Linked DNA regions of Homo sapiens: region 1 is linked to region 2. The links come from fine-mapping of genetic effects on gene expression. A gene starts in region 2. The other region holds a variant in brackets. All regions are shown on one strand. Distances are from middle to middle.

Region 1 (4,407 bases), 53 kb before region 2:
GTTTTCTCATGGTGAGAGTGGAAGAGTACTAATGTGAAGTCTGACTCTGCTCTGTGCTACTTGTGGTTTCTGCTCAGTGACGCTCCTGTAGATGAACTCAAACTTTAATGAATTCCATATGCTGTAAGCTGTGGGATCCCAAAGGGCAGAGATGGGTCATTTTAGTGGCCTTGTCTGTGTCTTGGAATGATTTAATGTGTCAGGGATATATATATATATATATATATATATATATATATATTTTTTTTTTTTTTTTTTTTTTTTTTTTTTTTTTTTTTGAGATGGAGTCAAACTCAGCTGCCCAGGCTGGAGTGCAGTGGCATGATCTCGGCTCACTGCAACCACTGTCTCCCGGGTTCAAGTGATTCTCCTGTCTCAGCCTCCCAAGTAGCTGGGATTTCAGGCACCCGCCATCACGCCTGGCTAATTTTTGTATTTTAGTAGAGACTGGGTTTCACCATGTTGGCCAGGCTGGTCTTGAACTCCTGACCTCACGTGATCTTCCCGCCTTGGCCTCCCAAAGTGTTAGGTTTACAGACGTGAGCCACCGTGCCCAGCCTGAGGAATATTTAATGAGAAGACATGACAATGGCAGGGCAAATTCACCTTGGGTGGGCATCAGGTAGGGGACCAGTGACTTCTGTAAGGCAAACGAATTGAATTTTATTCCCCCTGGTGCTTCATCAGGGGCGAAACATATAATATCCAATAGAAAACTGGCCTGGTGAGGTGGCTCATGCCTGCAATTCTAGAACTTTGGGAAGCCAAGGCAAGAGGATCACTAGAGACCAGGAGTTCTCAATGGGCAACGTAGTGAGAACCTGTCTCTAAAAAAAAATATATATATATATTAAAAATTATCCTGGCATAGTAACATGTGCCTGTAGTCCCAGCTACTCAGGCGGCTGAGGCAAGAGGATGGCTTGAGCCCAGGAGTTTGAGGCTGCAGAGAGCTACGTTCACACCACTGCACTCTAGCCTGGGTGACAGAGCAAGACCCTATCTCTAAAAAAGAAAAGAAAAAAAAAGAAATAAAATTGATGAAGGTATTTGTGGAATGGTGTTAAATAAAAGATATATTGTAAACACCATTCCATCTTAGACAAGAATGGGCGCATTTAGGGTGGTATGGCCGTAGACACACCATACCATTTTAGCCTAATAGAGAGCCTCTTAGAGGCCCGCCCTTAATAATGTTGTCATCTTGTGTAATATTATTCCATTTCCCTTCTTTTAAGAATCCCCCAAATGTTCGCATGAAAGAGAACTTTTAACATTATATGTATATGTTTATATATATTAATATATATATATATATGTGCATGTGCTTTGAGCCTGTTTCTGTAGATTGAAAAAAAGATCTATTTGCTTATGGTGGAAGATGCTGTTAATTCTTTGAAGTGGTTCGGAAAAGGTCTTTGAGTAAGTGGATCCTGGTGACCTACATGTTAGCATAAGTGTAAAAGGTTAAGCTTGCTAGTTCCTCCTCACCCAGTGGACCAAGCCTGATGGACTGTAATTGGTGCTTTGCCCTTTCTAGCTCTTAAATCATTACAAGGCCTGGCACTGGGACCTATGTCATTGGTAAAGGGAAGGAAGCCTAACGTGTGCATTGCTCCATGACTGCCGTTGGTTTACTAATGAATCATTTATCAGAGATGAATGAGTTAAGAGAAATATCTGCAGTATGACCCAAGAAGCCCCCACAGTATGGTGCATGATGAAATAACAGACCGAATATATTATAAAAATCTCTGAGTATTGTGGAGAAATCTAGAAGACACTGATAATAAATCAGTGTCACTATTTATGTCAGATTCCCAACAGACAAACCCAATTGCATCAGGCCCCTCCATAGCTTACTATGCACAATGGGACTATTAGATACATTCTTGGTCTAATGGGTTGCTGCCTGATTGCCACAGTGTTAAGGGTAAGAGGGAGGAGAGCCTGAGAAGCACAAGGTAGACCACCAAATGGTTCAGTTCAGTTAGTCCTAGGGGCTCTCCGGATGCCATTGCTTCCATCCCTCCGGGTGTCAAGGCCCTGCCCTCCTTCCTAGTTGTTTGTGGTTGCTTAAGTGCCCCATGTCATTGAAGAG[G/A]GAGGGGAGGTGATTGTCCTTATCAGGTGGGTTGGACAGAACTTAGCAAAAGTCAGATGAGCTTCACTCCTGCTTGTCCGTCAGTGAGTGATGCCCAGACTGCTGTGGCCTGAGCGCTGGTTCTGCCACCACAAAGCTTCTGAGGTAGCAAATCTGAACAGCCTCCTGATGGTCCTCCATTCCTGCCCATGGAATCCCTCTCTCCCCTTCTCCTGAGCCAGGAAATTGTTTCCTGGACTGATGGACATGGACTGATGAGTCTATTTTTCCAAATTTGTACCATCTTGTACCTGCACTTTAGCTTGTCACATGTCAGTAAATAATTTCACTCCATTGTTCTCTTCTCTCTGCCCCAATATCCTAAGGCAGTGGGTGCTTCATAATGTCTCACTGAAGTTGGGGGAGATATTTCGTAGGACATACAAAGACAATCCAAGGAGAGGGGAAGCTGATTTGGGAGGGAGATTGAACACAGTTAAAACTTTAAAAATGTTATTTTGCATATTTGTTATCAGATGTGCAAATAACTTACTAAAGCATGTATAAGCTATTGTGGATAATTTAACCTTTTTGTACCTTCATTTTTTTTCATTTTTAATGGGTATAACAATTACAATTACATCTTAATTAACAAACCTGTGAGTATTGAAAAATGTAATTCATATAAAATGCTTCATTTGGGACTGGGCATGTCACACAAACATACGTTCAATGTTAAGGAGGAAATAGGAAGGAGTTAGCCATGCCATCTACTTCCTAGCTGACCATTTATATTTATTGTGTTAGTTTTCTGTGGCTGTTGTAACAAATTACTGCAAACTTTGTGGCTTAAAACAACAGAAATTTATTCCTCCACAGTTTTGGAGGCTGGAAGTCCCAAAATCGATTCCACTGGGCCAAAATTGAGATGTCAGCAGAGCTGTGCTCCCCTGGAAGCTCTGGAAGAGATCATGTTTGTGGCTGCACCATGCCAACGTTTGCCGCCATGCCTTTGTGTGTGTGTGTGTATGTATAAACTCTCCCTCTACTTTCCTCTTATAAGAATACACTTAGGCCCCAACAGATAATCCAGAATGATCTCTTATCTCAAGATCCGTAACTTAATCACATCTGCAAAGACCCTTTTCCTGATAAAGTAACATTTACAGGTTCTAGTGCTTAGGACCTGATATATCTGGAAGGCTATTATTCTGCCTACCACATCTGATCTCTCCTAGCCTCAGTTACCTTACCTGTAAGTTGGGAATAATAATACCTTCCTTACAGGTATTGTGAGGATTAATTCCATAACATATGTGAAAATGCCTCATTAATGTTAATATGTTATGCAAATAGTTGTTGAAAAAATCTTTGAAAATCTGTCGAGATGAATGTAACTGCAGTATGCATCCATGGCGAAGTAGAGCATACAGCCTACATTTTCTGAAATGGTGTTAGGATAATCTAATGTTGAAAATCACAATAAGCTGTCAGGTTTTGTTCACCATAAACATTACAGGTATACTCTTTGCTGGATACTCTTCTGAGGACTGAAGTTATAAGGATACAGAAGCCCTAATCTTGAGGACATTATATTCCATTTGGAGTAAAGAGGCACACAAAGTTTAAATACACTGTGATAAGTGGCGTGACAGAATATCCCCAAGAGTGTTGCGTCATGAAGTGGGGGTGGGGAGGGCTTGGACCATCACTGGGAAGTCCAGGAAGGACTTCTCATCTTTGTGGGTAGTGGCTTTGGAAAAAACTCAACTAGCCTGTAGATCTGGCCTGTCTCGGTTGCTTTGAGTCATAAGTTAAACAGATTGTTTCTATAACCCCTTTGGCTCTTGAACTTTGGAGTGGAATGGATGATGTTGTGGAACGGGATCAAAACATGGATATTTGCTACTTGACTCTTCTCCAAAGCCTGAAGGCCGCGGCGTTATATCAGGAGGATACTTTAATATAGCACAAAGAGTCCAGGAAGACCTCCTAATCCTTTTCTCCCACTTCCTAATTTTAAAAATGCCTGAATCTTTAGTAATCAAACCAAATAAATTATGAAATACCCATTGACAGATGGTGGGTTTGATGGAGCTGTCCCTGGAAATAGATTTGTAATTCTGTCCTGTTGATGGGAAAGAGGATGTCGATAGGTTTCTGATTCATTGTCATGCTTAGCAAGGGCTGCTGCCTTGTGGTTTCCTGTCAGGTCCTTGTTCAGCCTGCAGTGGGGTTAGACATGGGAATGTGTCATTCATACCTACGGGGAATAAATGTTGCTTTTTCCTCCAAATGTTTTGTTTCAGTACTCTAAGTAGTTATGA
Region 2 (4,407 bases):
GTCCCAAGCATTTTGGATAAGGCATACTCAACTTGCATCTAACTATCCATAATTATTGTTAGCATTTGGTTGATTTCCTTTTATTTGTTTATTTATTTATATGTTTTTTTGAGACAGAGTCTCACTCTATCATCCAGGCTGGAGCACAGTGGTGCGACTATAGCTCACCGCAGTCTTGAACTCCTGGGCTCAAGCCATCCTCCCACCTCAGCCTCCTGAGTAGCTGGGACTACAGGTACACACCCCACACCCAATTATTTTTTAAATTGTTAGTAGAGATAAGATCTCCCTATGTTCCCTGGGCTGGTCTCAAACTCCTGGGCTCAAGTTATCCTGCACCTCAGGCTCCCAAAGTGCTGGGATTACAGGTATGAGGCACCATGCTGAGCTTCACTTTCCTTTTATTTATTTATTTTTTTTTTCTGTGTACATTGTGTGTAATTTTAGAAAAGGGAGATCATAATTTATACATTTTGTGCACTTTCTCAGATCATTAAATATTCCTTAAAAATATGATTTTTAGTGGCAGTGTAGTATGCCTTTACGTCATTCTCCACTTCTTGCAATTTAGATGTGCAATTTTATAGCATTGTACTATAAAACTATTAAACTTGTCATGTTTCCACTTGCCTGAGAAAGATACAGAATAATAGAGTCACATTTGCTATGATTAAGTCTCCTTTCCTGGTGATTTAGGGTTTAGAGTCTGAAGTGTGTATAATAATATGAATTTAACAATCCAGCAAGAATAGACATATTGGAATAGGTTGCCAAATCACAAAGTGCAAACCCAGAGTATTTTCCCCTCTGCTTACTCCTTTGTCTTTGTTAGCAGTGTGAATTACTGAATGATAGAAAGTAAGACCACAGCAAATCAAACATAGTAACAATCTGCTAAACGTAGATTATTATTAATACCTGCACGTATATTAACTGAAGAAAATAAACTGTAATAGAGGCTGTATGGCCTTTAGAACTAGAAAGACTTGAGTTTCTTTCCTTCTGTAAGCCTCAGCCCTCTCATCCTTAAGACAGCAGTTACAATGCCTACCTCACTGGGTGTTTGATTCACTGAAATCGTGAATATAGAATGCTCTCACTTTATGCCAGTTTCTTCTCTCTCTACCCGACCTTCACGCATGTTCATGCACACAAACACATGCACACTCATAGGTTCATAAACATACACATGCTTAAGGAGTATTGTAATACATGTGGAGACTGATTTGAGTTCACACATCGAAGGTTCCATTCTTCCAGAAGAGAAATTTATTAGGAAAACATTAGTCAACATCTCTGTGTGTACTGTTTCTGCTATATAAATGTCTAAATTAAACTGTAAATATTTTAGTCAGTACTGCTTTCCTTTAATGTGCACTCCAGAAACCATACCAACCAAGATATACTCCTGTAATATTCTCTGTGATTGACACCTACGCTCTATCCTGTACTCAAATCATTTCAATATCCCTCCTCCCATTTTCCAGATCTGTAGAACAGAGAATAAATATGCTTCAAGCTGGAAAGATTTCTTCTCTCCTCAAATAGCATAAAGAAATGACTGATGCTCTTTCTTATGGCAACAATTCATGTGTGCTTTTCTGGGGCTACTGCTGAATAAATTTATCTTACCTATTCAAGTGGCCTATACCTGATAAAATTTGATTAAAATACTCATGGAATTCAGGGAGAGAAACATCTACAAAATAATATATCTGAAACAAAAAGACAGATTTGCCTAAAAAGAACTTACCCTATACTGTAGTTCCCCCACTTTTAAAAGCTGCCATTCCTATTCAGTGTAGTTTTCTTACGCGGACTCTGTTTATATGCTGGTGGTGGTGGTGGAAGTCTGTTGATAAGCTGATATCCAAGCAACATCATGTGATGAAACAAAGAGCTGGGGAAATCTGGCTGCATGCCTTTCTTCACTTCTGGGTAACATTCAGCTACACAGTTTGATATTTTTTCTTCCACATTTTGTGTCTAATCAAGTGTCATCTTCTAAATCTACCATATCTGTGTTACATGCAGATATCGGGGGTAACATGCATAGAGGCAGAGATTCTAAATATTAAAGGTCAACAAATCCATCAGGGCAATGGGCCATGACATAAATATTTCCAAAATTTGGAGTCAGTAGTCCCCTTCCTCATTGCTCAGGATGATGAAGGAAGAGTTCCTGAATATAGAGGTATGGGCATGAATTTGCCTGTGGTAACCTATGAAATTATTCCATAGTTTAAGCTAAGTTCCCTTTCATTTTGTGGGGGAATAAGATATTCTCCATATTTTATCTTAATTAGAGGCTACATATGATGATAATTAACCTGTGGCGTAAGACTAGAGCCCACACTGACCTCATCCTTTCTTCTGTGATAGCATTATTCTACTGGCTTCCTTTCTTTCTCAAGTGTCCTCCTTCTGAATGCCAGCTTATCTGCAAAGATGAAGAGTTCCTAAAGAAAAGGGAAGAAGAAATATCAAAAGAAAATACATTCAAAATTCTTAGGAGACTAAGGGGAAGAAAAAAGCAGGGAGATGAGAGTGATGAATCATATGCCTTAAAGAAGAAAGGGCTCAACAGATGCAAAAGTCTTGCATTTTTTCCCCAGTAATTTGAATGCAGACCTCCTGGGAAATAAGCACAGCACAAACAAGTGTCTTTAAATGCCAGTAAATAACATAAAATCTTTCACTGGATCTGAGAGGTTGATGATTCTTTACCAAGAGATAAAGAACAGTGGTGTGCAGAGTTGACATTGTCAATCGAGTCTTCCTCAAACGTTTTTCCAGGATATGATGAAATTCATTCTGGGTGCACTGCATCTGCTGATGTTGCACACACATGCTGAAATTCCTACCAGCTTGCCTTGGACGCTACTCAATCAGGAGAACAGTAACAGATCTGTGTTTGACAGAGGGCATTTAATGTAAGGAATCTGTTATGAAAATATAGAAATGGGTTAGAGGAGTAAAACAAGAAGGGTTAGGTTATCCAAGGACTGGCAATTGCACTAAACTGTGATTGCACATAGAGCTGGAGGACAATAGGGAAAATGATTTTACCCACAGCCCATGGACACTGTGCCATAGAGGCTGCTTCCTTTGGAGAACTGCTGCCTGAGCAGCGCCTCAGGAACCTGTGCTCACCAGGCACCCTTGCTTCTATGTTCTTGCCCAAACTGCTAATCTTGCTGTTGCTGTCACCACTGTTGCTGTCCATGTGGCTGCTGCTGCTGGCACTGCCACAGGTGCAAGCAGAAAGTATTTTTAAAAAATGGCTTCTTCCCTCCAGCCTTCATTCATGTCCTGCCCTCCATTGGATGCCAGCTAGCAAGGGATTTTGGGAAATGTATTTTGCAGTCTTCCTACTACTCTGATAAACAGAAGGGTATAGAAGAATCAACATGAGGCCGACAGATGGTGGACACTCTCTAACACAAACACAAATCTAAGAGGTACCTTTGGGACCTATGAAGTCAGGCAGGAGGATGAAGGACTTAGACATACAGTCAATGTTTACCTAACATCACTGAAAGTTGTCAATTTATAAGAAAAGAGGAAATAAGATAAAACTAGCTATGTAGATGGTATCAAAGAATGAGATCTAAATTTGTAGACATATTTTAAAATATAAGAATGAGGGAGTAATGCATATCCTAAGTTTGGGACAAAAAATGTTTTCCCAAAGACTAGTTTAACATTTCAAAAAGGATTTAAACTGATTACAAAAAAAATGGGAAAGAAACACCCATAATCTAATTACTATAGGGAATACAATGTCAACTATTAGTAGAAAAGTTGTACTATTTCACAGTTAAAATATTGGTACAGCAATGAGACTCACTGCTTAAGACATTGGCTGTTTAGAAGGTGGGTGATAAAGTGTTTTCATGGAATATCAGGGTAAATGTGACCTCATGAGTGATACCAAGTGAGGAAGAGGGACTCCTGATTGGAATCCAAGATGAAGTTAAACTCTAATTCAAAGAAACCCACCTGCTAGAGGGAGAGTGCCACTGTACATCATGGAGGTACACACTTTCCCGAAAAACTATGAACCCGGAAGGAAATGCTCTGCTCACATCCTTTTGCCAGGATCCTCTTAGCTGCAGAGATGTCTGTGAGGTTGTCTCTGCCAGGCACAGACATGCTGCTTGACTATCCAAGCCCTCAGAGGACCTCCATGCTCCTTAAGGAAGAGAAGGCAGTGTCCCTCTCCCCACTCTACTGCTGTTTATCCCCTGGACTCTACTTAGTCTTCTAGAGTCTTGGTTGAATTTCATTTCCCATTGAGCTATGTAGTCCCTTGAGCTCAAATTTTTTGGTGGGGGAAGAGGAGTTAGTTATTCCTAATTATCTTGTTTTTTCTTTGACCTCTTCATAGAAAACCCCTACTTTTCT

Which allele goes with the higher level. Alleles are on the strand shown, and positions count from the first base shown. SD is a standard deviation of normalised expression in the study named.
In carriers of allele G in region 1, the expression in monocytes of the gene that starts at base 1,834 in region 2 tends to be higher than with A alone (moderate effect, 0.73 SD a copy in Quach 2016).

The links. PIP is the estimated chance that this variant, and not a neighbour inherited with it, causes the effect.
Region 1: its variant is the best candidate, but not a certain one, in a credible set for the expression of FAM216B in monocytes (Quach 2016, PIP 0.90).

Annotation. Positions count from the first base shown.
Region 1 is chr13:42,832,401-42,836,807 of GRCh38, reverse strand. No RefSeq gene overlaps it. Among named protein-coding and RNA genes, the nearest start is that of LINC01050, 22 kb to the right of the region's middle. The variant G/A (reference allele first, on the strand shown) is at 2,102.
Region 2 is chr13:42,779,011-42,783,417 of GRCh38, reverse strand. FAM216B (family with sequence similarity 216 member B) reads right to left here and starts at 1,834. Exons shown (of 4, transcript NM_001318932.2): 1 at 1,754-1,834.